Linked DNA regions of Homo sapiens: region 2 is linked to region 1. Evidence: fine-mapped expression QTL. Tissue or cell type: nasal epithelium. Region 1 holds a variant in brackets; the other region holds the start of a gene. All regions are shown on one strand. Distances are from middle to middle.

The links. PIP is the estimated chance that this variant, and not a neighbour inherited with it, causes the effect.
Region 2: it holds the start of GCNT1, and the variant in region 1 is fine-mapped to the expression of GCNT1 in nasal epithelium (TOPMed, PIP above 0.99).

What each region holds. Positions count from the first base shown.
Region 1 is chr9:76,514,811-76,528,642 of GRCh38, forward strand. It overlaps LOC124902184 (a long non-coding RNA gene), which reads left to right and starts at 718. Exons shown (of 2, transcript XR_007061585.1): 1 at 718-859; 2 at 1,704-2,398. The variant T/C (reference allele first, on the strand shown) is at 4,454.
Region 2 is chr9:76,450,607-76,467,801 of GRCh38, forward strand. GCNT1 (glucosaminyl (N-acetyl) transferase 1) reads left to right here and starts at 8,576. Exons shown (of 4, transcript NM_001490.5): 1 at 8,576-8,699; 2 at 9,454-9,571. RefSeq lists silencers at 8,361-8,900, 9,891-9,960, 12,797-12,846 and an enhancer at 9,511-9,620.

The DNA of each region.
Region 1 (13,832 bases):
TTATGTTCATCAGCAATGTTGACCTATAGTTTTCTTGTTTTGTAGTGTCCTTGTCTGGCTTCAGTATCTGAGCAATGCTATTCTCATAAAATGAGTTTTAGAAGTGTTATCTTTTCAATTTTTTTTGAAAGAGTTTGGGACAAATAGATATTAATTCTTCTTTAAATATTTGTGAAGCTCTCTGGTCCTTGGCTTTTCTTTCTTGGGAGATTTTTGATTACTGATTCAGTCTCCTTATACATTATTGGTCTGCTGAGATTTTCTATTCTTCATAATTTAATTTTGGTAGGTGGTATGTTTCTAGTAATTTGTTCATTTCTTATAAGTTATCTAATTTATTGGCATATAATTATTCATAGTTGTCTCTTATGATCTTTTGAATTTCCGTGGTATGAGTTGTAATGTCTCTTCTTTAATTTAAAATTTTACTTGAATTCTCTCTTTTCCTAAATTAGTCTAGCCAAGGGTTTGTCGACTTTCTCTTTTCAGAAAACCAACTCTTAGTCTCATTGATCTTTCTACTGTTTTTCTATAATAGTCTCTATTTTCTCTATTTTATTTTTCCTGCTCTAATTTTTGTTATTTTCTTCCTTTGCTAACTTGAGGCTTGGCCTATTATTCTCTTACCTCCTTGAGGTATAAAGTTAGGTTGTTTAGTTGAGATATTTCATTTTTCTTAACGTAAGTTTTTTGATTTTTTGCTTGTTTGTTTTTAAGACAGGGTCTTGCTCTGTTGCCCAGGCAGAAGCACAGTGATGTGATCATGGCTCACTGCAGCCTCAACCTCCTGAGCTCAAGTGATCCTTCCATCTCAGCCTCCCAAGTAACTGGGACCACAGGCAGATGCCACCATGCCCAGGTAATTTCTTAATTTTTGTACAGAGGAGGTCTCACTATGTTGCCCAGGTTTGTCTCAAACTCCTGGGCTCAAGCAATCCTCCCATCTCAGCCTCTCAAAGTGCTGGGATTACAGGCATGAGCCACCATGCTTGGCCTCAATATTTGTTGCTCGTTCAGTATTTACTGCTATAAACTTCCCAGTGAAAGGAGATTTGAAGGGTGGTTTTAACCTTCTCCTTTATCTTAGGTGATCAATCACCTCAATTTACCCTGGACTGTGGAGGTTTCTGGGATACTGGGTTTGGGATGCTAAAATCAGAATAAGTTGGTCATCCCATCTTTATCTTCCCCCTAAATATCCAGTATAATATACATCAGTGCTTTAAAATGGAATTTATGTTTTATGGGCATTAGCAATTCAGAAATGTGCCTGTACACAGGCAAAGGGAAAGAACAGGGGAGCCACAAATAGGCTTAGCCACATACAGGTGATACACTCACACTTAGAGTATTGGGCACCAACAGGCGAAATTTCTGATTAAGAAGAGAATTATAACTGAGCAGAGCATTGGAGGACATCCTCTTATGGAACCTGAGAAGCCTAACCCAAACTATTTGCAGCCAGGTCACCTACCTCTGAAGGGGTCTTGGTGGATGGTTAGAAATCAGCATAAGTTTAATAAAGCTGGTTCCCGTTATCACACATCAACACACATCCTGAATTATACCTAGCAAACTTTGCAGCTTCTACTTTGGAAAATCCTTCCACAGTCTATCCAGGTACTGAAGCTGCCAAACCGAGCAGTGTCCTTGAATGTTCCTGTCTCCTCACACCCACTTACTAAGGCCTCTCTCCTTCACAGTGACTCCGTTCACATGCTCCCGTCTTGTCATCAAGCCCTGTTCATCTCTCACCATCTCTCACCTGGACCATTGCCAGTTTCTGAGCTGCCTGCTCTTGAATACCAGCTTCCTGAAAATATCACCAAAACGATCTGGTCCTCAGACAAAGCAGAGTCTATTGCTCACTGCAGTAACAGAGAGCTCCGTCTTCAGAGTCTTGGTAACATTTCGCTGAGAGGACAACCCAATCACACTGTTTAGGAGATTTTGGATTCTGACTAAGGTGAGTCTGACAATGTGGGGTCTTGGCAAATAATCATGATGAAATAGTTTAAGATGAGAAGACACAGCAAAGTAAGGATTTTGAGGCAAAGGGTTCAAACAATCTTAGAGTATAAACTGCTTTTTATTGATGTAACTCTGAAGATGTTCCTGGAGTAAAAAAAGGAAGTTATTTGCAAATTTTACCTCCAGGGTGAGAGCTTCTGGAATAAGAAATTTCTGCTGATGAAGATCGTAAACTGTGTGGGTGTAGCTGGTTTTGCCTGTCACCTCCATGCCTCCTATCTCAAACTCTTCCACTTCGTTAGCAACAGCAACAATAATAACAATAGTTACAATATGAGTAGCAGCAAATATTTAGCTCTCATTAAATGCCAAGCACTGTCCTAAGCATTTTACAAATACTGTCTCATTAAAGTTCGCCATAATCCTATGGTATTGGCACTATTTTTGTCCACATTATACAAATGTAAACACTGAAGCAGCTTAGAGAGGACAAGTTATTTGACCAAGTCACACAGTACCTTCCCACTGTCAGAGTTCTATCAGAAATGAAAATTTGATAATTGCACACTCTTGCATAAACTTTTTCAAAGATTCCCTGTTGCCTAAAACATAAAAATCTTGATTTCTTCAAATGGTACACAGAACACTCCATGATCTGGCCTCAGTCCCACCTCTCCAGTCTTCTTTATTGTATAGGTTGCTCTACCCATTCCTGGACCACACATGATGCTGTTTCACGTCTTCATGAATCGTGCTCATTTGGAGTTTTTACTCCTGGTATCTACTCATCATCCATCTAATAAAACAGTAGCCTGGGGAAACAGTCTCTTCCCTCACTTTCAGCCTGTTTGCATTGTCCCCACTTAATGTGAACTGAGAGTAAGAAGGTGCTGGGATTGTTGCACTCTCTTACAGGAAGCAGGAGAATTAACCAACACTGAGGAGAAATGGGGAGATACAAACTATCTCATGAGGCTGTCCTGCAAGCCCTGGAGCAAGCTGAGCCCAAGCCTGTTCATTTATATCATCCAATACATTTGATTGTTTAAGGGAGAGTGATTTTTTTTTTAAGCATTTCCATCGGAAAAGGTCTTCATTCACACTGCAGTCTGTTAGAACATATTTCTTCAGGCTTTCAGACTAGAACACCCTCACCTTTCAACATTCAGCTCAGATATCACCACCTCCATGAGGTTTTTTTGTTTTTGTTTTTGTTTTTGAGACAGTCTCGCTCCATCACCTAGGCTGGAGTGCAGTGGTGCAATCTTGGCTCACTGGAACTTCTGCCTCCAGAGTTCAAGAGATTCTCCTGCCTCAGCCTCCTGAGTAGCTGGGATTACAGGCGCCCACCATCACGCCTGTATAATTTTTGTATTTTCAGCAGAGACAGGGTTTCACCATGTTGGGCAGGCTGGTCTCGAACTCCTGACCTCAAGTGATCCACCCGCCTCGGCCTCCCAAAGTGCTGGGATTATAGGTGTGAGCCACTGCGCCTAGCCTATGAGATCTTTTCTGACCATCTGTGTCCCCCACGGCCTTACATAAATGTCCACTCTTTTCTCTGGCTTCCACAGTATCCTAGACAGAATTAATCACCATCATCTAAAATAGGCCATTGAACTTACTTGTGCACATATGTGTGATTTTTTTTTAAATCAACTTTATTTTTTAGAGCAGTTTTAAGTTCACAGCAAAATTAAGTGAAAAGTACAGAGAATTTCCATATTCCCATATACCCTCTACCTTTCCTGTCCCCAATTAATATTGGGGGATAATAGAAATATCCCCAATTACCTCCCCACTTTTATTTATTTATTGAGATGGAGTCTTGCTCTGTCACCCAGGCTGGAGTGCAGTGGCGCCATCTCAGCTCACTGCAACCCCTGTCTCCTGGGTTCAAGTGGTTCTCCTGCCTCAGGCATGCGCCACAACGCCTGGGTAATTTTTGTGTCTTTAGTATAGATGGGGTTTCACCGTGTTGGCCAGGCTGGTCTTGAACTCCTTACCTCAGGTGATCTGCCCACCTCAGCCTCTCAATGTGCTGGGATTACAGGCGTGAGCCACCGCGCCCAGCCATTGCTGCTACTTTTAATGGCAAAACCCACAATTACTTTTGCACCAACCTAATAAATCGATAAAGTCAATTAATTTGCTTAATTTTGATTAACCACTCTTAAGGGAAAAAAATAATTTTAGATATTTTTTCCTCAAATAGAAACCATAAACAATCGAGGGGGAAAATACGGACTTACTGATAACCTTTTATAATTTGGCTGAATTCAGCTTGTCTTTATTCTCCCTGTGAAATAAAACCTTACTGAAAACTAAACACCGCACCTGAATTAAAGTGTCCTGTCAGGTTTTTTTCCTGCCCACAAATATTTCTGTTCAGGAAATTTGATCTTTAGGAATCTAATGTCCTTTCCTCACTGCCTAAGCATGCAACTGAAATAACAGGGTGGGTGGACTGATCCCTCATGTG[T/C]GGTTACAGAGCTGCGGGCTCAGGCAGGTCGAAGTTCCTTCTGTTCACCAGGAGAAGAGAAGAAAGAACGAGGAGCCGGAGACAGTGCACTTTTGTGGGTCTCCAGCTGCATTCTTTCCCAAGCCATTTCTAGAAACTGCATGAGGGAGGTCAGGGTACACCTGTTTCCTAGGAAGCTGGACTCCACTTCGCATGAAGTGCAAACAAGGAAATAGGGATGGAGAGTGAAAACAGGGAAGAGTATGAGTGCAAAAGCTTGAAAAAAAATAGTATGCATTTTTGACTTAGGAGGGCAACAATAAACCAGTGGGACAAGAGAGAGGAAAGCCTTCCCCAGGAATCTTTCCTCATAACTTTGCGTGGTAGGTGGGCTGTGGGGACAGACATGATTCAGTACTGCTGTGTCACTTAACAGTTGAATCTGCCCTGGAGTGCAATGTCAGACGATGAGAAATTGCCTACTCTAATTTTTATAGCCATTTAAGAATGTTTCCCTCTACCTGGGCACTATTGACATTTTGGGCTAGATAATTCTTTGTTGTGGGGGTGGAGGCTGTCCTGTGCATTATGAATGTTTGGCAGCAGCCCTGGTCTCTACCTGTTAGATGCCAGTGGCAACCCCAACCCAACCCCAAGGCATCATCTTGTGATAAAGATGCCTCCAGACATTGTGAGATGTCTCTTGGAAGGTAAAATCGTCCCTGCTTGAGAACCCCTGATTTATAGGAATAATTTCGTTTCCATCGCAGTGCCTGTCTTATATTGGGCAGAGTGTTTACTATGTGAAAGTTACTGACTAGGTACAGGTTTACCTTGGTGAACCAAATATTCATGATTGCTGCTCGTATGGGACTTAAATCTGATGAGTGAAAAGATGGATGGGTGAATGTAGGATGTCTCAAAAAGCAGATGTGATTTCTCTTAGGAATCAACCAGTGTTAAAAAGAAAAAATGTCACCCAGCCTACTTCCTTTCTACTCAATCACAGGGGGTTAAAAAGAATCCTTGTGTGAGGCAGGCCAAGGAGTCCCCCATCAGATAACTCAGGAAAAAAAAGCAATAATGTTGGCTGGGCATGGTGGCTCACACCTGTAATCCCAGCACTTTGGGAGGCTGAGGCAGGCAGATCATGAGGTCAGGAGTTCGACACCAGCCTGACCAACATGGTGAAACCCCATCTCTACTAAAAATACAAAAATTAGCCTGTTGTGGTGGTGCGTGCCTGTAATCCCAGCTACTCAGGAGGCTGAGGCAGGAGAATTGCTTGAGCCTGGGAGGCGGAGGTTGCAGTGAGCCGAGATCATGCCACTGCACTCCAGCCTGGGTGACAGAGTGAGACTCCGTCTCAAAAAAAAAAAAAAAAGGACAATGATACCTATGGACTATATGACAGGCTTTTGGAAATATAAGGAAACTAGATACAGTGTATTACAAATAATTTTCAAATACTAGACTGCTTCAAAATCAAATAAAAGGGTTGGTAAAAACAGATGTCTGGGCTCTACCTTATGTTTTAAAATCTATGAGGGTGAACCAGGTATGATTAATTCTTTTTTAAAAAAGATATATACATGTACACATATATTTAATTGAGACAGGTTCTCACTATGTTGTCCAGACTGGTCTCGAACTCCTGGGCTCATGCAGTCCTCCAACCTCAGCCTCCCAAGTGCTGAGATTACAGGCATGAGCCACCACACAGCCAGCCAGGTATGATCACTTCTTATTATTCATGGTAGTTATGTTCTATAAACTCATAGCAAACACTAAATTAGTGAATATTGGACTATTGCTGCAAGGGGAAATATAAGATGAGGCTCCTGAGAACCTCTGGTCACTACATTTTTGTCAATTGATATGCCATTTGCGTTCTATAGGTTCATTTTCCAACTTCCTTGTAAAACAAGCCAGTCTCACCAGGGTTGAAAATCGTCTCTTCCAGTAACCCTTTTCCCATAGAACACTTAGCAAATATTTAAAAAACTGTTCCACAGCATTCTGATCTGCAGAACCTACCCCTCCCACAGGTTTAACATTTTTCCATGCCTCATCGCCTTTTGAAACGTGTGGGCCAGTCAGCACTAGCCACAAAGGGTTTAACACTTTTCCATAAATTTCTTGGCTTTCAGCCTCACAGAAATGCTGTCCACTATGTTTTTTTTTTTTTTAATCTGTCATCATCTCATGAATACACCCATTTAGCCACTCTTCCATCTTATTCGTAGATCTAAGATGCACTATAGATGTTACTTTAGCGCTTTCTGGAGCAGTGTCACACCCGACTGGGAAATGTCCCCTTCCTTTTTAGGTGTACAAGATTGTTGACTCATTCACATTGAACTGTAAGTCGTGCCTGAACAAAGCTTATCTAGCACACATTTTCTCTCTGTAAGGCAGGTCACAGCCTTCCTGCACTTACGAACACTAGGCAGCGCTTTCAGTGCTATGCCTGGGGCCTATTTACTTATTACTTATTGAATATCTAATTTTAGTCCCAAAACCTTTTATTCAGTCCTCAAATTGTTACCATGAAAGAAATGATAAATTGCAATTTTATTATTACCCTATCACTGCGTATCAAGCCCTTGTTACAAAGTCTCCATTTACTGTCTCCAAAAAACCAACAGACAACCCACAAATTATATTACCTAATGATCTATTAACAGATGACCCAAGCTTCTCCAAGTGTGCCCCCCGACCAGTAGCAACAACATTACCTTGTTTGGCTGGTGGTGATGGCTCACTCATACCTGTAATCCTAGCACTTTGGTAGGCCAAGGGGGAAAGATGGCTTTAGTCCAAGAGTTCGAGACAAGCCTAAGCAACATAATGAGACCTTGTCTCTACAAAAAATAAACAAAATTAGCCAGGCGTGGTGGCACACACCTGCAGTCCCAGCTACTCAGAAGGCTGAAGCAAGAGGGTCACTTGAGCCCAGGAGGTCAAGTCTGCAGTGAGTCATGATCACACCACTGCACTCCAGCCTGGGTGACAGAACAAGACCTTGTCTCAAGAAACAACAACAAAAAAGAAGAAAAGAATCACCTTATCTGAAATGCAATTTTCAGACCCTAACTTAGAACTACTAAAGTAGAGACTTGGTAGGTGGAAACCAGCAACCTGTGCTTTATCAAGTGCTTTTTTTTTTCTTTCTTCTCTTGAAACAGAGTCTCACTCTGTGTTCCAAGCTGGACTGCAGTGGTGTGATCTGAGCTTACTGCAGCCTCCACCTCCAGGGTTCAAAGGATTCTCAAGCCTCAGCCTCCCGAGTAGCTGGGATTACAGGTGCACACCACCACACCCAGCTAATTTTTGTATTTTTAGTAAAGATGGAGTTGTGCTATGTTGGCCAGGCGGGTCTCTAACTCCTGGCCTCAAGCAATCTACCCACCTCAGCCTCCCAAAGTGCTGGGATTACAGGCATGAGCCACTGCGCTGGGCCTTTATCGAGCTTTTTAAGTGATTCTGATGCATCCTCAAGTTTGAGAACCACTGGAATAGACAAATGTTTATTGACATGAAAAGTCCACAATACAATGAGTTAAACAAGAACACACTGCAAAAGAATATATACAGTGTGATCCTAGTTTTGAAATATTTACACATATGTGAATGTATAAAAACAGATCTGTAAAGCTATACTTTAAAATGGTAATGTGTCCGGAATTGGTGGGTTCTTGGTCTCACTGACTTCAAGAATGAAGCCGCGGACCCTCGCAGTGAGTGTTACAGTTCTTAAAGGCAGCGTGTCCGGAGTTTGTTCCTTCTGATGTTCGATGTGTTCAGTTTCTTCCTTCTGGTGGGTTCGTGGTCTCGCTGGCTCAGGAGTGAAGCTGCGGACCTTCCTGGTGAGTGTTACAGCTCTTAAGGCGGCCCGTCTGGGGTTGTTTGTTCCTCCCGCTAGGCTCGTGGTCTCGCTGGCTTCAGGAGCGAAGCTGCAGACCTTCGCGGTGTTACAGCTCATAAAGGCAGTGTGGACCCAAAGAGTGAGCAATAGCAAGATTTATTGCAAAGAGCGAAAGAACAAAACTTCCACAGTGTGGAAGGAGACCCCAGCGGATTGCCCCTGCTGGCTCGGGCAGCCTGCTTTTATTCTCTTATCTGGCCCCACCCACATCCTGCTGATTGGTAGATCCGCGTGGTCTGTTTTGACAGGGTGCTGATTGGTGTGTTTACAATCCCTGAGATAGACACAAAGGTTCTCCAAGTCACCACCAGAGTAGCTAGATACAGAGTGTCGACTGGTGCATTCACAAACCCTGAGCTAGACACAGGGTGCTGACTGGTGTGTTTACAAACCTTGAGCTAGATACAGAGTGCCGATTGGTGTATTTACAATCCCTGAGAGAGACATAAAGGTTCTCCACGTCCCCACCAGACTCAGGAGCCCAGCTGGCTTCACCCAGTGGATCCCACACAGGGGCTGCAGGTGGAGCTGCCTGCCAGTCCCGCGCCGTGCGCCTGCGCTCCTCAGCCCTTGGGTGGTTTCATGGGACTGGGCGCCATGGAGCAGGGGGCGGTGCTTGTCGGGGAGGCTCCCGCGGCACAGGAGCACACGGTGGGGCAGCGGGGGGAGGCTCAGGCATGGCGGGCTGCAGGTCCCAAGCCCTGCCCCGCAGGAAGGCAGCTAAGGCCCAGCGAGAAATTGAGCACATCAGCTGCTGGCCCAGGTGCTAAACCCCTTACTGCCCGGGTCCGGTGGAGTCGGCCGGCCCCTCCAAGTGCGGGGTCCGCTGACCCTACCCACCCGGAACTCGCGCTGGCCCGCAAGCACGGCGCGCAGCCCCGGTTCCCGGCTGCGCCTCTCCCTCCACACCTCCTTGCAAGTTGAGGGAGCCGGCTCTGGCCTTGGCCAGCCCAGAAAGGGGTTCCCACAGTGCAGCGACGGGCTGAAGGGCTCCTCAAGTGCCGCCAAAGTGGGAGCCCAGGCAGAGGAGGCGCCAAGAGCAAGCGAGCGCTGTGAGGACTGCCAGCACGCTGTCACCTCTCAGTAACAATTGTTATCACTGGGTAAGGAGGTTACAAGGGATTCTTTCCTTTTTTTTAACGTTTCATTTGAGTTTCAGATGTTTCTACCATGAATAACAATTTCTTATGCAATTTTAAAAGAGAGCAAAATAAATTCCATGAGGAAGAATTTGACAGATAAGGACCCATCTGTGTCCCCGAGTTCTATTCCCTGCCTGTGGAATCACTCTCCTCATGCTCATAGCCATCAACAAACTGGTACCTACAGAGCAAAATTTCCCTCTGGGTCTCTCAAGCAAGCAGAAACACAATTGCTTTTCTTGATGTCCCTTGGCACAGCTGGAATTTTGTATTAGGGTTCTCTAGAGGGACAGAACTAATAGAATAGATGTATATATGAAGGGGAGCTTATTAGGAGAACTGACACACACAATCGCAAGGTTAAGTCCCACAACAGACTGTCTGCAAGCTGAGGAGCAAGGAAGCCAGTCCGAGTCCCAAAACCTCGAAAGTAAGGAAGCCGACAGTTCAGCCTTCAGTCTGTGGCCAAAAGCCTGAGAGGCCCTGGCAAACTAATGGTGTAAGTCCAAAAGTCCAAAAGCTGAAGAACTTGGAGTCTGATGTTCAAGGGCAGGAAGCATCCAGCACAGGAGAAAGACGGAGACCAGAAGACTCAGCAAGTCTCCTCTTCCATCTTCTCCTGCCTGCTTTATTGTAGCCACACTGGCAGCTGATTAGATGGTGCCCACCCAGACTGAGGGTGGGTCTGCCTCTCCCAGTCCACTGACTCAAATGTGAATCACCTTTGCCATCACCCTCACAGACATACCCGGGAACAATACCTTGCACCCTTCAATCCAATCAAGTTGACACTCAGTATTAACCATCACACCTATCTGAAAGAAATAATTTTGTTAATTCTGTAAATAATTTTTTAAAAATTCTGTTGATAGTTCAAGTCCAAAAAAATTGATTAAAAAAAATTCTTCAGGGTTAAGTGGCTACTCTATTCGCAGTAGCCCTTCCTCTAAGGTTTTTCTTTCTAGTCTCCTTTCCCCCTCACTCAGCTCTTAATTCCTGCCAATAACTGAGAGTGAAGAGACAGTCACCTTGCTTCCGGGTCTCTCAGTCCTCTACTGGCCTTTGGCTCCAGATGTTTCCTTAGCACTTGCATAGTACCCAGAGTATTTTAAGTGGTGACTGATCTGCAGGTGCAGATCTCACTTGGCCCCCATAGCATTGGGACCCATGCAGATTCCATTGTGTTACAGTGACTGTAACTTATTTTAAAAGATCTCAGCATATACATCGTGATATTTTGTATCTGTTATTTGTTTATTTAGAGACAGGGTTTCATTATGTTGGCCAGGCTGGTCTTGAACTCCTGACCTCGGGTGATCCACCTACCTCGGCCTCCCAAAGTGCTGGGATTACAGGTGTGAGCCACCACGCCTGGCCAATATCTGTTACTTAGATGAAGCCAAAACCTTCAGATAATTTATAATGCATAGTTAAGGCATGATCAGTTCACATTAAATCAGAAAAGGTTCCATCCCAGAGATGGCTTCATCAAACTAACACTTTGCTATTAAACATACTGAATGTCTGAAAAGGGATTTCACTGGAGAAACTAGTAACTTTTGTCAAGAAGCAGTTATTTAGCATGATTCTTAGAAATGAGCTCTCATTTGTGATGCTAAAGGTATTCAAAATATGAGGACTGGCTAAAAATACCTTAAAGAGACTCCTAACTCTTGTATGGGTGGGGGTGTAACAATTAAGGAAGACCTAAAATCTAGCTTGCTCCCTGAGTTGTCCTATAAGCAGCTGTTGGTATAGGAGGATTTCTGAATGATGCCAGTTGGAAGAGAGAGACTCCTGCTTCTGAAGTGCTGTTGTGTGCTGCTTGTAAGCATTTCATGCAATGTGTGATTGGATCACCTAAAAGAGTACAGAGCTAGAATTTCATTACACCAACAGGACAGTACCAACTCCTTAGTGGTGACTAATGAATGTTTGCATAGTAAACACCTATGTGGGTGACAGGATTTGGGCTAAGATTTCTTTCCTGTAACCTGATTGTGAGATTATGAAAGCACAGCTAAATCTCACTCCCTCAAATTTCTTTAGTGTCTACTATCTTCTAACAGAAACAATCTAAGGGTTGAGCACGACCAAACTGACTTGAATCAATTCACTGTGTTCTTACACAATTTCCTGTAAGGACAGACACCCTTCATTCCTTTGAGGCACATCCTTTTATCCTTGTCTAGGATCCCTGGTGAGGTCTTCTGACTCTTTCATGCACCACTCAAGACCAATATAATCTTCTCTCATGCTACTTCTGAGCCATGAGGAACCTGGAAGGAGGGCATCTCTGTCCTTTTCGTGGGACAAAAAAGTGAATGTAGGAAATCATATCAGCTAATATCACATATCATCCTTCCATACCTGTAACACATATACAGGAGTTAAACACAATAGCAAGAAAGAAATTCCTTCAATTAGGCTGGGTGCGGGGGCTCATGCCTATAATCCCAGCACTCTGGGATCCAAGGCAGGTGGATCACCTGAAGTCAGGAGTTTTGAGACCAGCCTGGCCATCATAGCAAAACCCCATCTCTACTAAAAATACAGAAATTAGCTACGTGTGGTGGCAGGTGCATGTAATCCCAGCTACTCCGGAGGCTGAGGCAAGAGAATCGCTTGAACCTGGGAGGCAAAGGTTGCAGTGAGCCAAGAGCGTACCAGTGCACTCCAACCTGGGTGACAGAGCAAGGCTCCGTCTCAAAAAAAAAAAAAAAAAAAAATCCTTCAATCAAATTCCCCAGTTCTTACACAGATACCTCACAATAGTGGTGTTATTGATATTTTTGGGTAAGAGGAAAATCTTTCTTTTGCCCAACTATCCCTACCTTGCAAGACTTTTAGCATTCTTTGACCTTGCCCACTAAAAGACAACAGTTTAAATAAAATTTTTAAAAGATCATTAGATATTTTGAAATGCCTCCAAATGGAAAAAAATTGGCCTGCTTAAGAACTGCTGTACTAATGGTCTCCCAACTGTTTCACAGGTCTCAGGGAAGGCCACAGAAGGCTTCAGTGGCTGAATAGAAAAGTAGGTGGTTGAGGGGTCAGCCTCCTATCCTTGCCTCAGAACACAGAACATGCCTCAGGGCAAAGTGACTGACTTCGCAGGCTGTGATGATAGCTGTTATATTCTTTTCGAGAGAGGGGATTTCACTGTCACCCAGGCTTAAGTGTAGTGGTGGGAATCATAGCTCACTACAGCCTCGACCTCCCAGGCTCAAGCGATCCTCCTACCTCAGCCTCCCAAGTACCTGGGACCACCACATGTGGCTAAGTTTTTAATTTTTATTTTCGTAGACATGAGGTCTCGCTAAGCTGCCCAGGTAACTCCTGGGCTCAAGTGATTCTCCCACTTTTGCCTCCCTAAGTGCTGGGATTACAAGCATGAGCCACTATACTGGGCCCCCCATTATATTCTTCATAAGTAAAAGCATATCCAGAAATTTTCATTTCCAGTTGATCTTTACGCTGCTTTCTTGACCATTTCTCTGAAGGTGCCTGGAGCAAAAATGTGTCCAGAATTGGTGGGTTGTTGGTCTCGCTGACCTCAAGAACGGAGCCGTGGACCCTCGCGGTAAGTGTTGTGTCCCGAGTTTGTTCCTTCTGATGTTCAGATGTGTCCAGAGTTTCTTCCTTCTGGGGGGTTGCTGGTCTTGCTGACTTCAGGAGTGAAGCTGCAGACCTTCGCAGTGAGTGGGCGGCGCATCTGGAGTTGTTCGTTCCTTCCAGTGGGTTCGTGGTCTCACTGGCCTCAGGAGTGAAACTGCAGACCTTTGCTGTGAGTGTTACAGTTCATAAAGGTGGCACGTCCAGAGTTGTTCGTTCCTCCCATCTGGAATTGTTCATTCCTCCCATCTGGAATTGTTCATTCCTCCCATCTGGAATTGTTCATTCCTCCCATCTGGAATTGTTCATCCCTCCCCGTGGGTTCATGGTCTCCCTGGCTGGCTTCAGGAGTGAAGCTGCAGACCTTCGCACTGAGTGTTACAGCTCATTGTTACAGCTCATAAAGGCAGCGTGGACCCAAAGGGTGAGCAGCAACAACATTTACTTCTAAGAGGCAAAGAACAAAGCCTTGGCAGAGTAGAAGGGGACACAGTTAACCAAGTAGCCACTGCTGCCTCAGGTGGCGTGGCTTTTATTCCCTTATCTGGCCCCACCCACATCCTATTGATTGGTCCATTTTACAGAGAGCTGATTGGTCCATTTTACAGAGAGCTGATTGGTCCGTTTTACAGAGAGTTGATTGGTCTGTCTTGACAGAGTGCTGATTGGTGTGTTTACAAACCTTTAGTTAGACACAGAGTGCTGATTGGTGCGT
Region 2 (17,195 bases), 63 kb before region 1:
GTAAAAAGTGATTTGTAGTTTTAATTTGCTTTTCTTCAATTCCTATTGAAATTGAGCATCTTTTTATGTGGATTTCTTCTTTAGTGAAGTATCTTATCATGCCCTTTGCCCATTTTTCACCTGGTGCATATTTTTACGTAAACACCCCTTTATTTGAAAAATTAATTTTTGCTTACATACTATTGCATATATTTTCTAGTTTGTTGACTTTTAACTTTGTTTATGATATATTTTGTTATGCATACATTTAACACTTTAATGTATTAACTATATCAAACTATTTTGTGTGTGATTTTAGCTTTGTTGCCATTCTGAGAAATGCTGCCTGCTCTTAAAAGGGATCAACCTGTTTCTTTTTAAAAACATTAAAGAACTTACATGTATGGGTTTTAGAAACATATTTCAGGCTTTACTCTACCTGGAATTTGCATGCTTAGGAGCCACACTTTCTTTTTTTCCTGGACAGTACATTTATGATTGAATTTGCTTTCTCCATGCTTTGAAAGTAGTACCTTACTCTTTTATGTCTTCCTCATGTTCTTTTCAATGTAATTTGATTAAATTTCTAAAACAATTCAAAACTAATTTTGTAGCATTTGTCAAAATAAATCTGGATTTAGGCAAGGGGAGACTTTATTCAAAAGGATTATTGCAAGAAGAGGATGGGTGGCTATCATAAAAGGATGAGGAGAGCTCTTTAGCCAGTGCTATTTTTCAGAAAAACAAGGCTCTGGCAAAGATCAACACTGTTGACCTCCCTTTTGTTAATGATAAAAGAATATTATTCACCACTGAGCAATTCAGATGCAATCCTAAGCCTCCTACATGGGGTGAGTCAGGGACTAAGAAACGGTCTCCTGGGGACTCTGGTTGGTGTTGTTCCCACAAAACCAGCTGAAGCATCTGTTGAAAGGTGGTGGCAAAAATCAGTTGTTTAAGGGTCAGGTATCTTAAAATGAGGAATGCCTACCATTAAAAAGATAAATGTTAATTAAAAGTTTTAATATAAAAGGCCAAAGAAATATTAATCTTGGCATCTACAAGCCAAGGAGAGAGGCCTCAGAAAAAGCCCAACTCTGCTGACACTCAATTTTGGACTTCCAGCCTCCAGAATTGTGAGAAAACAAAATTCTGTTGTTTAAAGTACCAGTCTATGGTACTTTGTTGACAGACCTAGCAAAGTAATATACCTACAGAGAAAACTATGAAGTAGATAATTAGCTGTCTGTCATATACCAGCATATTGTAGCAGACTAGTCAAGCTTAAGGTTATATATCTTGTGACTTTTTTATAGCCATACACTTCCTTATAGTACAACTTTTCTTTTCTTTTCTTTCTTTCTTTTTTTTTTTTTTTTTTGTTGTTGTTGTTGTTGTTTTGAGATGGAGTCTCTCTCTGTCGCCCAGGCTGGAGTGCAATGGTGTGATCTCGGCTTACTGCAACCTCCACCTCCTGGCTTCAAGTGATTCTCCTGCCTCAGCCTCCCGAGTAACTGGGATTACAGGCCCCTGCCACCACATCCAGCTAATTTTTGTATTTTTAGTACAGATGGGGTTTCACCATGTTGGTCAGGTTGATCTCAAACTCCTGACCTCAGGTGATCCACCCACCTTGGCCTCCCAAAGTGCTGGGATTACAGGTGTGAACCACTGCACCTGGCCTGTACAACTTTTCAGTGTGGCAAGAATGAACACATCATTAGCAGACCAAAATATATTTAGCCTCTCTGTACTAAAAAAAATTTACATAAGCTTTAAATTATGCTCCACTAGTCTATCTTACTTAGAAATGATCTAGGTACTTATATTAGACCATTCTTGTATCGCTATAAAGAACTACCTGAGACTGGGTAATTTATAAAGAAAAGAGGTTTAATTGGCTCACAGTTCTGTACGCTGCACAGAAAGCATGGCTTGGGAGGCCTCAGGAAACTTACAATCATGATGCAAGTTGAAGGGGAAGCAGGTACATCTTACACGGCTGGAGCAGGGGGAGGAGAGGCAGGGAGGAGGTGCCACATACTTTTAAACAACCAGATCTCATGAGAACTCCATGACAAGACAGCACCAAAGGGATGGTGCTAAACCATTAGAAACCGCCTCCAGGATTCAATCACACTCCATCAGGCCCCACTTCCACAACTGGGGACTACAATTCGATATGAGATTTGGGCAGGGACACTGATCGAAACCATATCACCCCCGAAGTGGGAAGGGCTCCCTACCCAGCTAGTTTCCCCTTCAGCCAGACCAGCTGTACCCTACTTAATCTTCAATCTAAGGAGCTTTACCTACCTGCCAGCCCACAGAACTATTTGAACAAGCCAATTACATCCTCCCGTGGAATAAAAGGTTACCTCACTCTTGTGCCATTACTACAAAGCCTGCCTCACACAGCCCCTGCTGCTTCAGTCTGCTTTCAAATGCAATTCCCATGTGGCTCTGCCTGGCATGCAATAACCTCCTCACCCCTTAGGCTGTGAGTATGTAACTGAAAAAACTGTAGCCAATCTCATCTGCCCAGTATTGGGTGTCATCTGTTCAGCCATCTCCTGTTTAGCACAGGAGATCCCTGCTTCACCAGTGCTGTGAAGAGAAGGTGGTCAGAACAGAAGGGAGGCCTAATCTTGAGTGACCATGAGTTGAGGAGCTGGAGTGGGTAGGAAAAGGTGTGTAGGAATGGGTAGATGGGTGAAGGAGGTGGACAGATTAAATCATTCAAGGCAACAAAAGAGAAGGTTTAAAGTGGTAAAAAGGAGGGATGAGGATGATGGGAAGGGAGAAGTCTTAGATGAGCTGGTTTAAGGAGATCTCATGTTTCCCAAAGAGGCCTTTGAGGTTCTAGGTTACCTTTAGTAAATTGTGCCATTTTTGAGGCTATTAAACTGAATTAGTGCCATAATAGCAGGTACTCAGTGGGGGAAGAGGAGGGCATCTGATAGAGTGAGAGTTACCCATGGCATTAGTGGATAGTCAGCCCAAAGAAAAGTCTTTAAAGGAGCCAAGAAAAACTCCCACTTGATTAATTCCCTTGAACAATCCCCAGGTCGAGGAGCTGAGGAAACACAGAAGTCTCACAGGAGGGCCAAAGCATCTCTTTGCCTGAAACAATCAAAGTAACCTCTTACTGTTCTTCAACAGACAAGATGGCCAGAGCACTGGTTCAAGACTTGAACTCACCCAAGAGTCCTCAAGTCCTGAACATGGCACCTTTACCTGGGTGGGGCTGGTGGAGGTCCCTAGGTGAGTTCCAGTCTTGAGCTGGATCACAGCAATGAGAACTGTCAAATAAAAACCAAATCCAGATCTAGGTAAGGAGAGACTTTATTTAGAAGGATTATTGCAATAGAAAAAGAGAATGTCGCAATAGGGGAGGGACGGCATTCTAATAGAATGCTTCAACCATAAGATCTGCAAGCTTTTGAAAGGTCAGGCAGAAAAGGGTTTTTCTTTTTTTGGTAGTAGTAAACAATGTTAAAAAGAACCAGTATCGGCTGAGTGCGGTGGCTCATGCCTGTAATCCCAGCACTCTGAGAGGCCAAGGTGGGAGGATCACCTGAGGTCAGGAGTTTGAGACCAGCCTGACCAACATGGTGAAAACTCGTCTAAAAATACAAAATTAGCTGGGCATGGTTGGTGCATGCCTGTAATCCCAGCTACTTGGGAGGCTGAGGCAGAAGAATCGCTTGAACCCGGGAGGCGGAGGTTGCAGTGAGCTGAGATTGCACCACCATTGTACTCCAGCCTGGGCAACAAGAGCGAAACTCTGTCTCAGAAAAGAAAAAAAAAAAAAAAAAAAAAAAAAAAAGAACCAGTATCAGGGAGTGGGATGAGCAGGTGGCCCAATCAGGCAACTGATCAGGACAGAGTTTCTTTGTGGTCAGCTGGAAAAGGGCTTCTTGGGAGGGGATGTGATATGGTTTGGCTGTGTTCCCACCCAAACCCCACCCAAATCTCATCTTGAATTGTAATCCCCATAATCCCCACGTGGTGAGGGAGGGGCTTGGTGGAGGTGATTGGATCGTGGGGGCAGTTTCCCCCGTGTTGTTTTTGTGATAGTGAGTGAGTTCTCAGGAGATCTGATGGTCTTATAAGGCTGTTTTCCCTGCTCTTGCTTGCTCTCTCTCATCTGCCGCCGTGTAAGATGTGCCTCTTCCCCTGCTGTCATGATTAAAAGTTTCCTGAGGCCCCCCCAGCCAGGCAAAACTGTGAGTCAATTAAACCTCTTTTCTTTTCTTTTTTTTTTTTTTTTTTTTTTGTTAGACAGAGTCTCACTCTGTCGCCAGGCTGGAGTGCAGTGGCATGATCTCAGCTCACTGCAACCTCCGCCTCCCGGGTTCAAGCGACTCTCCTGCCTCAGCCTCCTGAGTAGCTGGGATTACAGGCGTGCACCACCACGCCTGGATAATTTTTGTATTTTTAGTAGAGACAGAGTTTCACCATGTTGGTCAGGCTGGTCTCGAACTCCTAACCTTGTGATTCGCCCGCCTCAGCCTCCCAGAGTGCTGAGATTACAGGCGTGAGCCACCGCACCCAGCCTTTAAACCTCTTTTCTTTATAAATCATCCAGTCTCAGAAATGTCTTTATAGCAATGTGAAAGCAGACTAATACAGGACATTAAGGGGCTTATTCCAAATTCCAATGCTGGTTTAGGCTGAGACTAGATTAAAGGGCAAAGACCTGATGGAAGGAGAAAAGCCTCATTGAAGTTTGATCAAGTAAGGTATTTGCCCAGATTGATCAGTAGGGGCAAATGGTTCAGCTAACCATTTATAAGATGAGAATGGAAATTTGGAGCGCATGTCTATGGCCTTGTTGTAAGTGTGAAAGGATGTTATCCATGATGATTACCTAAGTCATTTGGGGAAAGGTGGTTCTATGTAGTTAGTGGTTTCTCAGAAAATACAGCCGGGAGAGGATGTTCACTGGTCTCCAGTAACACAAAGTATAGGTCAAGCAACACCATCCCCTTACTTTTTTTTTAATTTATTCTTATTTATTTATCTATTTTTGAGATGGAATCTTGCTCTGTCACCCAGGCTGGAGTGCAGTGGCATGATCTTGGCTCACTGGAACCTCCGCCTCCCAGATTCAACCGATTCTCGTGCCTCAGCCTCCCCAGTAGCTAGGATTACAGGCATGTGCCACCGCACCCAGCTAATTTTTATATTTTTAGTAGAGACGGGGTTTCGCCATGTTGGCTAGGCTGGAACTCGAACTCCTTACCTCAAGTGATCTGCCCACCTCGGCCTCCCGAAGTGCTGGGATTACAGGCATAAGCCACCATGCCCTGCCTCTGTCCCGTTATTTGATTGTACTTGTAACTATAGTTTTATTATGACATTTTAAGAATATATTGCTATTGTATTAATCATTACTATGACAGCTGTGTTTATCAGACACTTTCCCACATCTATAATATTAGGAGAGTTGGGTGTTTGTGATCATGAGTTTGCTCCTTGTGCTGGTTATTGAAGTATGTCTTAGAGTTCAAACTCAAGCTTCTATCTTCTGCTTTGTGAGCCAGGGCTGGGACTTAGCAAATCACATTTCCTATAAGGTTTTGCTTATAAGGGGTGCTTGAGGAGAGGGACTTGCTACTTTATAGCTGCTTACTGTTCCTGTCCATGTTACCAAGCAATGGCTCTTCTCCCTGGCTGCAGCAACAGCTGGTTCCAGTTTCTTAGATTTGTTTGTTTGTTTTAATCCACCCTCTCCCATCCAGCCTCAATATTTACCTTCAGAGATAAAAGCACCAGCTGGGTACCGCCCCCTCCTTTGAGGTCTGACTCCCAGCCAACCAGGGGCCCTCTCCTGGCTGTTAGGTTCTGATAACCCCAACACTTCCCCTCTCCCCAGCTCTGTGCATGGCAGCTGCTTCCTGCAGTTACTCTCTCTCTGTTACTACAATGTTTTTGCCTTGCCAATCTTCATGACCTTAAATTCTCTGTAAAAGTAATTGCTGTGATTTCTGTTTTCTGACTGGGCCCTGACTGATACACCCCTAAGCATTCCAGAAATACCTTCTAAACTACTTGTATAGATTTATGGGTGTATGTTATTGCAGGCATTAAAAATAAGTGGGCTGGGCAAGGTGGCTCACACCTGTAATCCCAGCATTATGGGAGACTGAGGTGGGTGGATCGCTTGAGCGTGGGAGTTCAAACCCAGCCTGGGCAACATGGTGAAACCCTATCTCTACAAAAAATACCAAAAAATTACCGGGCATGGTGGCACACACCTGTAGTCCCAGCTACTTGGGAGGTTGAGGTGAGAGAATCACCTGAGCAGGGGTAAGTTGAGGCTGCAGTGAGCTGTGATTGCGCCACTGTGCTCCAGCCTGAGTAACAGAGTGAGACCCTGTCACATACACAAACAAAATGGATTACACTTATGGTATACAGGCAGTATCCAACTGACAAACAAGATATATTCCAAAAGTTAATTCATAAATCTATTGCTTGGCCACCACCCCTGGTTAATTTATCTATTTTTATTTTGTAGAGGTGAGGTCTGGCTATGCTGCCCAGGCTGATCTCAAACTCCCAGGCTCAAGTGATACTTGTACCTCGGCTTCCTAAAGTGTTGGAATTACAAGCGTGAGCCATTGCAAACAGCCAGCTATATTTTATTTTTAATTAATTAATTTATTTATTTTTGAGATGGAGCCTTGCTTTGTCACGCAGGCCAGAGTGCAGTGGCACGATCTCAGCTCACTGCAACCTCCACCTCCCGGGTTCAAGCGATTCTCATGCCTCAGCCTCCTGAGTAGCTGGGACTGCAGGCACACGCCACCGCAGCTGGCTAATTTTTGTATTTTTAGTAGAGACGGGGTTTTGGTATGTTGGCCAGGCTGGACTCAAACTCCTGACTTCAGGTGATCCACCCACCTCGGCCTCCCAAAGTGCTGGAATTACAGGCATGAGCCACTGTGCCCAGCCCCGGCTATACTTTAAACTTATGTTTAGCAATTAACATGTCAGTATTTTAACTTACAAATGACTCAGACATTTAATGAATATCTATTACTTAATTTAATATGTTCGAAATTTCAAGTCACCAAAAAAGATTTTTAAAACTATTTTTAAGTAGACAAATTTTATAAAACAAATTATTTTTAAAAGTTTATAAACTTTTATTCCATTTACATTTACCTAATCTACTTGCTCTTAACAATTATGCTTGAATTGCTCATGAAAAATTTCATGAGATATTAAACAAAGCTAGCCATTGAAGGAGTTCAGGAGTTTTTCCCAAAATCATTTCCTCTCCCCTAAATTGTCCCTCCCCAATGAAGAGGATACACAAGCTCCTAAAATCTCAGTTTTTGTTGGGGGAGGCAGAGGGAATATTAGTTTTTCTTTTCTGTGATACCCCCTACACGAAATCTGTGTACTTTTTCTCTTGTTAATCTACCTGCAGTCAATTTATTTCATAGACTTAGTTATCCAAGCCTCAGAGAGTAGAGGGGAAGTCTTTCTTCCTCTATACCATCATCTTATGTTAATTTTTGTTGACAAATCAGGCAAGTGTCAAACATATCACAGTCTAATGGCCTCTGAGTTGGATTTTTTTTTTTTTTTTTTTTTTTTTGAGATGGAGTCTCGCTCTGTTGCCCAGGCTGGAGTGCAGTGACACGATCTCGGCTCACTGCAAGCTCCGCCTCCCGGGTTCACGCCATTCTCCTGACTCAGCCTCCCGAGTAGCTGGGACTACAGGCGCCCGCCACCACGCCTGGCTAATTTTTTGTATATTTAGTAGAGACGCGGTTTCACCATGTTAGCCAGGATGGTCTCGATCTCCTGACCTGGTGATCCGCCCGCCTCGGCCTCCCAAAGTGCTGGGATTACAGGCGTGAGCCACCGCGCCCGGCCAGAATTTTTTTTAAACAACATGGAAACAAATAAGACCTCGTTCTGTTTTCTAGGAGCTAAAAATCCAACGAAAGAAGACACAGACACAATATTCCCCTTGTTACAAAGAGAACTGTGTCAACTTTTATAACTGACACAAAGATCTGTGCTATAAGGGCGGGGAAGGTTTTTTCCTACTTTCCACAGCACTGTGGATTGTTCCACAGTTTAATTTGATCTTAATTTTTATGTGGAAATACACATGAATGTAATGAGTTCTTAAATGCTAAATTTAGGAAGCAAGGTTCGTTAGGGGAGAGAAAAAAACACCTACATGGTTATCTCTAAACTTTACATATCGAGAACCTTGGAATTTAATTTTATTGTTGTTCTGTAACATATTTTCATGTTTAAAATCAGAAAAGGCAGCATTTCTCGAGTTTCCTGCTTTCGAGGAAGGGAGGCATAAAATGTTTAAAAAGACGCCGCTCACACACCTCTTAAGAATCAGAGCACAGTGAGGAAGAGGAGCGAGGAAGCACTAGGATCGCAGCGCTACTCCCAGACCACGTCAGTGCCCAGAGGGCGCCCTCGCCTGTAGGCGGGAACCGCGAGTCCGCAGCAAGTCCCCAGCCCCGAGCTCGCGCAGGTGGGCGAGGCGGGGACGTGGTGGGCGGGGCCTAGAAAGGCGGGGCCTCTGGGGGCGGCCCCGGGGCGGGCCACGCTGGTGTGAGGGCTGCAGGCGCAGCTCCGGAGCGCCTAGAGCGCGGCGCGGGGCGGGAGCTTGGTGGAGCAGGAGCGGCTGGGCATCCTCCTGAGACTCCGGGGTCAGACGCCCACTCCAGGTAACCGGCTCTCCCTCGTGTTCCCCTGCTCGGCCGCCCGGCGGTGGGGGAAGGCTGAGAAGGATGGGTGGGAGGGAGCCGGCTCTCAGCCAGTGCCCCGTGGCCCCGGGCGGGCTGGGCTCCCCCGCGGAGGAGGAAGCAGAACCGGGGTGCGCCCGGGACCGGAATGGAGCGGCGCCTCTTCCTTCCACCTTCATTTTCCGTCCGCTCAGTGGGGCTGGGACGCCGGTGCCCCGTGTCCCCTGAAAGTCACTTTCTGGCCTCTTGCCCCTGGTCCGTGTAGCTTAGATGTCGGAGGGGTTGGCTGCGGGCGTGGATAGGCAGGGAACGAACAGACTCGCTGCCATCCCATGGGTGCCAGGGGCTTAACTTCATTTAACTTCATTGAATCCTAACGCCAGCCCGGCTAAGATGCATTTTCACCCCTACTTTACTGATAAAGAGGCCAACGCTAGGATAATAAATGACTCACCCTGGAGCAAACTATTACTAATAAGAAAAGAGACGTTAGTTTAGGGGCTCCGAAGCCTCTCCTTTCCTGCTCCCTCGCTTTCCTTCTTCTCGCGGCAGTCTAGGAAACTCGCGCGCAGGGTCTATTACGAAAACAAGTGATTCGTCTTAAAAGCATTTTACCCCCTCCTAGGTTTCTCTTTCCTCTTTTTTTTAAGTATCTCAGGCAGATTCCTCCAAGTTTTGGTTATTAGGTTTTTGAAATGGAAGAAGCCCTTGCTCACTGCTTCTTTTCTCCTGGCAGCGCTTTCTGCGCAGCACAGGCACCCTCGCCTGTCACGCCTCCCTCTCCTCTTCCCGTCTCCCAGCGTGGATGAGGGCGCCTGCAGATCCCGGCTAGGGCACGGACCGCCTAGGCCGAGGTAGGTTCTGTAGGCACCTGGCATGCTGTAGATGCATATAAACGTTGCCCTGTACACCCTTTGCCTTGTTATTTCTTTCTGCAGAAAAGAGAGTCGGTTTTTTACACATAATGGGGCAAGAGGCCAATTGGGAAGATATATGGTGTTCAAAGAAAGCCGTGGTGCCTTGAGATGAGAATGCGGCCACAGCTTTTTGTGGGCTGAATTTGATGGGTGGGAGGTGAGAGACGTGGTCTGGAAGTTGTCTCTTCGTCTGGCATTCTGCCCCCCTTCCAGAGCTGTTCTGAAAGGCCGGTTTGTTTTATAGAGGGGAGGAGGAGGGCTTAGTAGTTTTTAAAGATCAGTGTAAATTACCTGCTAGGAGCTTAGGCAATTCCAGGCAGGCCCCCCTGCTGGAGGCTTTCGTAACAGATTTCAGTTCTAGCAGGGAGGAAAACTCAGACTGTGTAGATACCTGCTTTTTCTTAAAGGAATTTTTTTCGGGCCCTTAAAATGGTAGTTTTGGGAAACTGATTTCTTAGAAATGGCAAACTCCTTTATTTTAAAATACAATATACCAAACTATGAATTTACTTTTAAAAAGTTTTATTGGCCGAGAGGTTGATATTTTTTCCATTTCATGATGAGGGTTTGACGGTCACTGCCACCTCCTCTGCCCGTCCTTCAACTTGGCCCTGTAAAGGATCTCCTTAGCCTTGGCCCCAAGTTTGTACTAGATTCTATCCTTCATTAATTATAGTTCATTCTTGATTAATGATAGCAATGCTTCCACTCACTTTTTAAGGAGTTACTCCTTTTCCGTTTGTAATTGAATTGCTTAACAGTAAGAAAAACGTTTTTCCCTAAAACTGGGATCACAAAATCCACTTTATCCACATGGACTAAACAGGTAATGCACAAGAGTGCTTGGTTGGGCCCAGGTGACTGCAGAGGAACCTGCTAAGGCTGGGTGGATATTGGCCATTTCCACCGAGTATCCATGCAGGAATTCCCATTCAGCCATACAGTGTAGGCAGCTTTTTTTTTTTTTTTTTTTTTCCACGAATAGCTGAGAACTTTTACTTAAAAATAAAAAATGTAAAGCCTGATTTTAAATATTGGCTCATATTTTTTCCTTTTTAGAACACAAAGAGGGCCGGGCGCAGTGGCTCACACCTGTAATCCCGGCACTTTGGGAGGCCCAGGCGGGTGGATCACGAGGTCAGGAGTTCAAGACCAGCCTGGCCAAGATGGTGTCTCTACTAAAAATTCAAAAATTAGCTGGGCGTGGTGGCTAGGCGCCTGTAATCCCAGCTACTCGGGAGGCTGAGACGGAGAATTGCTTGAACCCGGGAGGCGGAGGTTGCAGTGAGCCGAGATTGCACCACTGCACTCCAGCCTGGGTGACAGAGCGAGAGTCTGTCTCAAAAAAAAAAACACACACAAAGAGCCTGGGCATGGTGGCTCACACCTGTAATCCCAACATTTTGGGAGGCTGAGGCAGGTGGATCACTTGAGGTCAGGAGTTCAAGACCAGCCTGACCAACATGGCAAAACCCCATCTCTACAAAAATATTCAAAAATTAGCCAGGTGTGGTGGTGGGCACCTGTAATCCTAGCTACTCAGGAGGCTGAGGCAGGATAATTGCTTGAACCCGGGAGGCGGAGGTTAGGATGAGCAGGGATCGTGCCACTGCACTCAAGCCTGGACGACAGAGTGAAGCTCCGTCTCAAAACAAAAATCCCACAAAGAATAAAATCAAATTTGTTTCATGCATCATCTGTTTGCAAAACTCTGCCTTAAAAACTGCTACTGTACACGGTGATTATATTCTCCGATGAATGGAAAATTCTGAACTGTGATGTAGATATTGTACATTTTTCATGAAATGAAGTGGTAGAAAACAGAAATTACTACTGGAAATGATCCCTTCTGACTGTCAAATTCTGTTTTCTATGAAGTGTGTGGTATTTCAGCTATACTGTATTTTTTTTTTTTTTATAGAGCCAACCAAGGACTCTTGTCACTATTTTTATTTATTCTAATGAGAAATGTATTCATGGTTCCAGGTCAGTATGTCAAATGTCTAACTCCCTGTCTTAAAAAGGGAGTTCCCAAATGACTGTTCATATAACCATATGTGTTTCTTGTGGAGACTGTCTGTATTCTTGGCTTTGTCACTGGATTTGTGGCTTAGTGCTGTCACGTTTCCTATCTGAGGCAAATGCCATATATGTTTAGACCAGCCTTTCTCAATTGTGGCACTTTTGCCATTTTTGGCCAGTTAAATTCTGTTGTGGGGGCTGTCCTGTGCATTGCAGGATGTTTAGCAGCATCTCTGGCCTCTACCTACTAAATGCCAGTGCACCCTCCCTGCAGTTAAATGACCCCAAATGTCTCCAGACATAGGCAAATGTTCCCCGGAGAACAAAGTCATCTTTGGTTGAGGAACAAAATGAACCTATATTTAAGATGGTCTAAATGTTTCTGAGATGGTCTAAACATTTATAAGCTTAACAATTAACTTGAAACTCTTCAGGACTAGAGAAGCTATTTGTAAATTTAAACATCTGACGCCTTGAAACACCTTTATCATAAAGATAACTAAACCAGTGTTCTTTGTGAATGGCCAATGTGTCCTGCCAGTTTCTTTTTTTTTCTTTTTCCTATTCTGAGAAGCATGCCCTGCCAGTTTCTATCTCCAAAGAAATTTCAAGCGTTCAGTGTATTTGTTAAATTTCATAAAGTTTAAAAAGTTGAAAATGAAAAAGGAATTCTACGGTAGTTTTAAGTAGAATTTAGTTTTAAGAAAAATTAACCTCTTTTTAGCTAACAGCAATAAAACGAAGACTGCTGTGTATTTCTGTAATCTGAAAAATCTCGACTTTCTCAAAGGGAGCGCTACATAATGTATGATATAATTTATATCAGAAGAAAACATGTCCTAGAAATGTAACCCTCTTTCTTAGGACTTACATGTGCTCAGGGAGGTTGAAAACAACCTTGATTATGGAGGATGCCTCCTTAGCTGGGGATTAGCTATCCACTGTTCCCTTCCAGAAATCAAACTAATTTGTAAAACTCAGGACTGGCTACATAATTTGTGGGGCCCCTTGTTAAAAAAATTAAGAATTTGAACATGGTGACCACAGAGCATTAAGCCAAGCACGGCCCAGTGTGACTGCGTTGGTTGCCCACCCATGAGCTGGCCCTGGTGAAACTCTTTATTCATAGCTAAGAGTAAGGTTGTGGTCACAAATGCAAATCTAAACCGTGAAATGTTACTGCTGCCACTAGGCACCTGGAGTTTCTGCTTCCTTGATTGTTCTTCTGTTTCCAATGAGGAGTCTGCATGTATTTGGTCATCAATGCAATAATGTTACTAAGAAATCCTCCCATGATTGATTTTTCGTTTGCTAAAGAGGTAGCCAAATGTTTGTTCATTAGAGTCATGGGTACTGGAGCAACCTATTTATTCAGGCATTCATTGAACAACTATTTACTGAGCATCTGTTAGATGCCCGGCATTGCTCGCTCCAGGGCCACAGCTGTGAACAAGATGGAGGGTCCCTGCCTTTATGAGCTTATGAGCCAAACACATAGTCACACCGGCTCAGGCTATCACAATCTTAAGTGGTACTTAGGAAAGCACAGGGTGTTAGGGGAGCATGTGACCTTGAGACCTAACCTGGTTGAGGGGAGAGGGACTGTTCAGGGAAGACCTGCTTAAAAAATGATATTTAAAATAAGGCCTGGGGGCAGGTATGGTGGCTCACACCTGTAATCCTAGCACTTTGGGAGGCTGAGATGGGAGAATCGCTTGAGGCCAGGACTTTGAGACCAGCCAGGTCAACATAGCGAGACTCCCATCTCTTTTTTTGTTTTTTTTTTTTTTTGTAAAAATAATAATAAAAAAAAGGCTGAAGGATTAGTAGGAGTTAGTGAAGTACATTAGGGGATAAACTTAGAGGCTGAAAGAGTTGAGATCAAGAGTAAAATATGTCTTGGGTCATTTTTAGGATTTTGGACTTTAATGTCAGCATAGTGGAAACCCACTTTTTGTTTGTTTGTTTGTTGCAGACAGGGTCTCACTCTGTTGCCCAGGTTGGAATGCAGTGGCACCATCTTGGCTCACTGCAACCTCCACCTCCCAGGCTCAGGTGATCCTCCCACCTCAGCCTCCTGAGTAGCTGGGACTACAGGCACACGCCACTATGCCTGAGTAATTTTTGTATTTTTAATGGAGATGGGGTTTTGCCATGTTGCCCAGGCTGGTCTCAAACTCCCGAGCTCAAGCGATCTGCCCACATTGGCCTCCCAGAGTGCTGGGATTACAGGTGTAAGCCACCATCCCTGGCCACTAAAGTGTTTTTGATTTGTGGTTGTTTTGTTTGTTGAAGACAGTGTCTCACTTTGTTGTCCAGGTTGGAGTGCAGTGGCTATTCACAGGTGAGATCATAGCACACTTCAGTTGAACTCCTAGGCTCAAGTGATCCTCCCACTTCAGCCTCTCAAGTAGTTGAGACTATAGGCATGGGCTACCATATCTGACTAGAAGTAGTTTTATTTTAAACCCATCAAGTCCTGAGTCCTTCATGTTTTCTCTAAATTCTACTTAAAAATTGAATATACTTCTTTAGTTCATCTCTCTCACATTTTCTCAAAGGCAGATACTGGGCCAGATAGCACTTCCTACATTCTTCTCAGAAATGTTCTTAGGCAGATCCCTGATATGGTGAAATATCCTCTCAATTTTCCTTGTTAGGGCAGGCAGTAGTGTTGCTCACATTCCTCCAGTTCATTTTCTCCAGTTTCCAATGAGATTTTTTTGTTTTTGAGACAGTCTTGCTATGTTGCTCGGGCTGGAGTGCAGTGGCTATTCACAGGAGCAATCATAGCACACTGCCATCAAACTCCTGGGCTCAAGTGATCCTCCTGCCTCAGCCTCCCTTGTAGCTGGGACTGCATAGGCCCTGCTGTGCCTGACTCTGATTTGAGTTTTTTTTTTTTTATTTTTTTTTAGACGGAGCCTTGCTCTGTCACCCAGACTGGAGTGCAATGGTGCAATCTCGGCTCACTGCAACCTCTGCCCCAAGTAGCTGGAATTAGATGTGCGTCACCACACCCAGATAATTTTTGTATTTTTAGTAGAGACGGGGTTTCAGCATATTGGCCAGGCTGGTCTTGAACTCCTGACCTCAAGTGATCCTCTCACCTCGGCCTCCCAAAGTCCTAGGATTACAGGTGTGAGCCACCGCACCTGGCCTAATTTGAGTTTGTAAAATGATCGCTGTTGCTGTGTAGAGAATAGTTTAGAGAGGTAGGTCCTGCTGGCACGTTTGGTGTCTTTGTGCAAACCCAAGAAAGGCTTCTATTCTGTGTGGACCAATTAGAAAAAATGCACCACTGTGTCCCAGCTAGGCCAGGTCAAAAGGCTTCAGCCCCCTGAGCCAGACTTGTTACGCAGGCACAGCCTGTGCAATCATGTGGCCACCCTGGGGAGGAGGAGGGTGGATGTGAACAAACAGTGCTTTTGCAGTCACCCAGTGATGGCGTAGCAGCACTGGATAACGCTTAATGACAGGTGAGGATTGAGATTGAGTGAGATTGGGTTTGTAGTTAAAATCAGCAAGAAGGTGGTGATTATTTGGATATGGTTGATGGAGAGGGAGGTAGCAAGGATGATTCAAAAGTTTCTGGCATAAACAACTGAGTAGGATGGGATGGTGGAACCATTATGGTGATTGAGAACACAGGAGGAGGAGCGGGTTGGCACGAGGTGTGGGAGGGAAGATAATGCCTTTTTGGATGTGTGTTTTGTTTGTGAGACATCCAAGTAAAGATGAGGAGTAGACAGTTGCTACTCCTGGAAGAGATCTGGGGTGGAGATACATGTTTGGGAGCTGTTGCATGTAAGTATTACTGCATAAAAAGCACTCATCCAAAGAGGGTGTAGAATGAGAAAAGAAAAGGGCTGGACCCGTAGAGTTTGATCACTGTATTTGGTAGAGGAAGAGAGGCCTGTTAAGGGTACTGAGAAGTGTGATATTCATGCAGGGCAGGGAGGAAATGAGGGGTCTATGATGTTTTGTTTTGTTTCAGATTGAGATGGAAGAAATTTAAACATGCTCTAATGCTACTGGGATTTTGTTTGTTTTGTTTTTGACAGGATCTCTCTCCATTGCCCAGGCTGGAGTGCAGTGGCACAATCTTAGCTCACTGCAACCTCCACCCTCTGGGGCTCATGCCATCCTCTCACCTCAGCCTTCAAGTAGCACCAAGGGTGTACAGCACTACGCCTGGCTAATTTTTGTATTCTTTTTCTAGAGACGGGTCTCACCATCTGTGTTGTCCAGGCTGGTCTCAAATTCCTGAGCTGAGGCAATCTGCCCACCTTGGCTTCCCAAAGTGTGGGATTATAGGCATGAGCCACTGTGTCTGGCCACTACTGGGAATTTTCTGGTAGAGAGGAAGAGCCTAAAGATGCAGGAGGGTAAAATAAATGATAGGACCAGTTTTCAGAGAGGGTGAGAACACAGTGCAGAATTTGGTCTTTGATGGAAGGACGGAGGGAGAGGATGGATAAAGATGCTTTAGATTTTGGGTCCAGAATCGTGAGGACTTTTTCTGAAGGAAGTGGCAAAACCATTGGCTGAGTTTGGGGTGTGTCTGTGTGTGCAGTCAGATATTTCTTCAGCCAGCATTTAGTAAGCATTTTCTAGTGCCAAGCTTTGTGTTTGGCTCCCTGGAAAGTGTTATGAATGATGATTACCTTGAAGCTTGGCCCTGTACACCTGAAATAGCCTTGCACCACTTTTTCTACAAATTGCTTCCTACCTTTGACCTTACAGGCTTGTTAACTAAAGGCAGTAAATGCTCAGCTGATCTTTTTTTTTTTTCTTTGAGATGGAGTCTTGCTCTGTTGCCCAGGCTGGAGTGCAGTGGCACGATCTCAGCTCACTGCAACCTACGCCTCCCAGGTTCAAGCGATTCTCCTGCCTCAGCCTCCCAAGTATCTGGGACTACAGGCACCCGCCACCGCGCCCAGCTAATTTTTTGTATTTTTAGTAGAGATGGGGTTTCACCGTGTTAGCCAGGATGGTCTCAATCTCCTGACCTAGTGATCCACCCGCCTTGGCCTCCCAAAGTGCTGGGATTACAGGCGTGAGCCACCTCACCCAGCCTCAGCTGATCTTTTGATGGGCATCAAAGCCACTAGGGGTGACAGTCCTGGAGGGGAAGGACCTTTTCAAGCCCCTTCCACATCATGCAGGTTCATGTTCCATGTCATGGTTCTCGGTGTTGGCTATACATTAGGAACACCTGTGGAACTTTTAAAAAAACCTGACACCCAGGTCAAACTCTATATCAATTCCATCAAATCTCTGGTAGGGGGACTCGTTATTGGTCCTTTTTGAAAGCTCCCTGGTGGTTGCAGTGTACAAACCAGATTGAGAGCTACTTGCCTGTTGAGTGGCCCTGAGTCCAGTTAAAGCCACTCTTCTGTGTTGAGCTCCAGCCCCTGCTGCCTGGAGTTTACTGCATTTGTCAGTTGTGTGGAACAGAAAATAAGGCTGAGACCAATTGTGTAGGACAGAAAACGAGGTTGAGATTATATTGGTATCCAAAGCAGGAAGCGAAGGA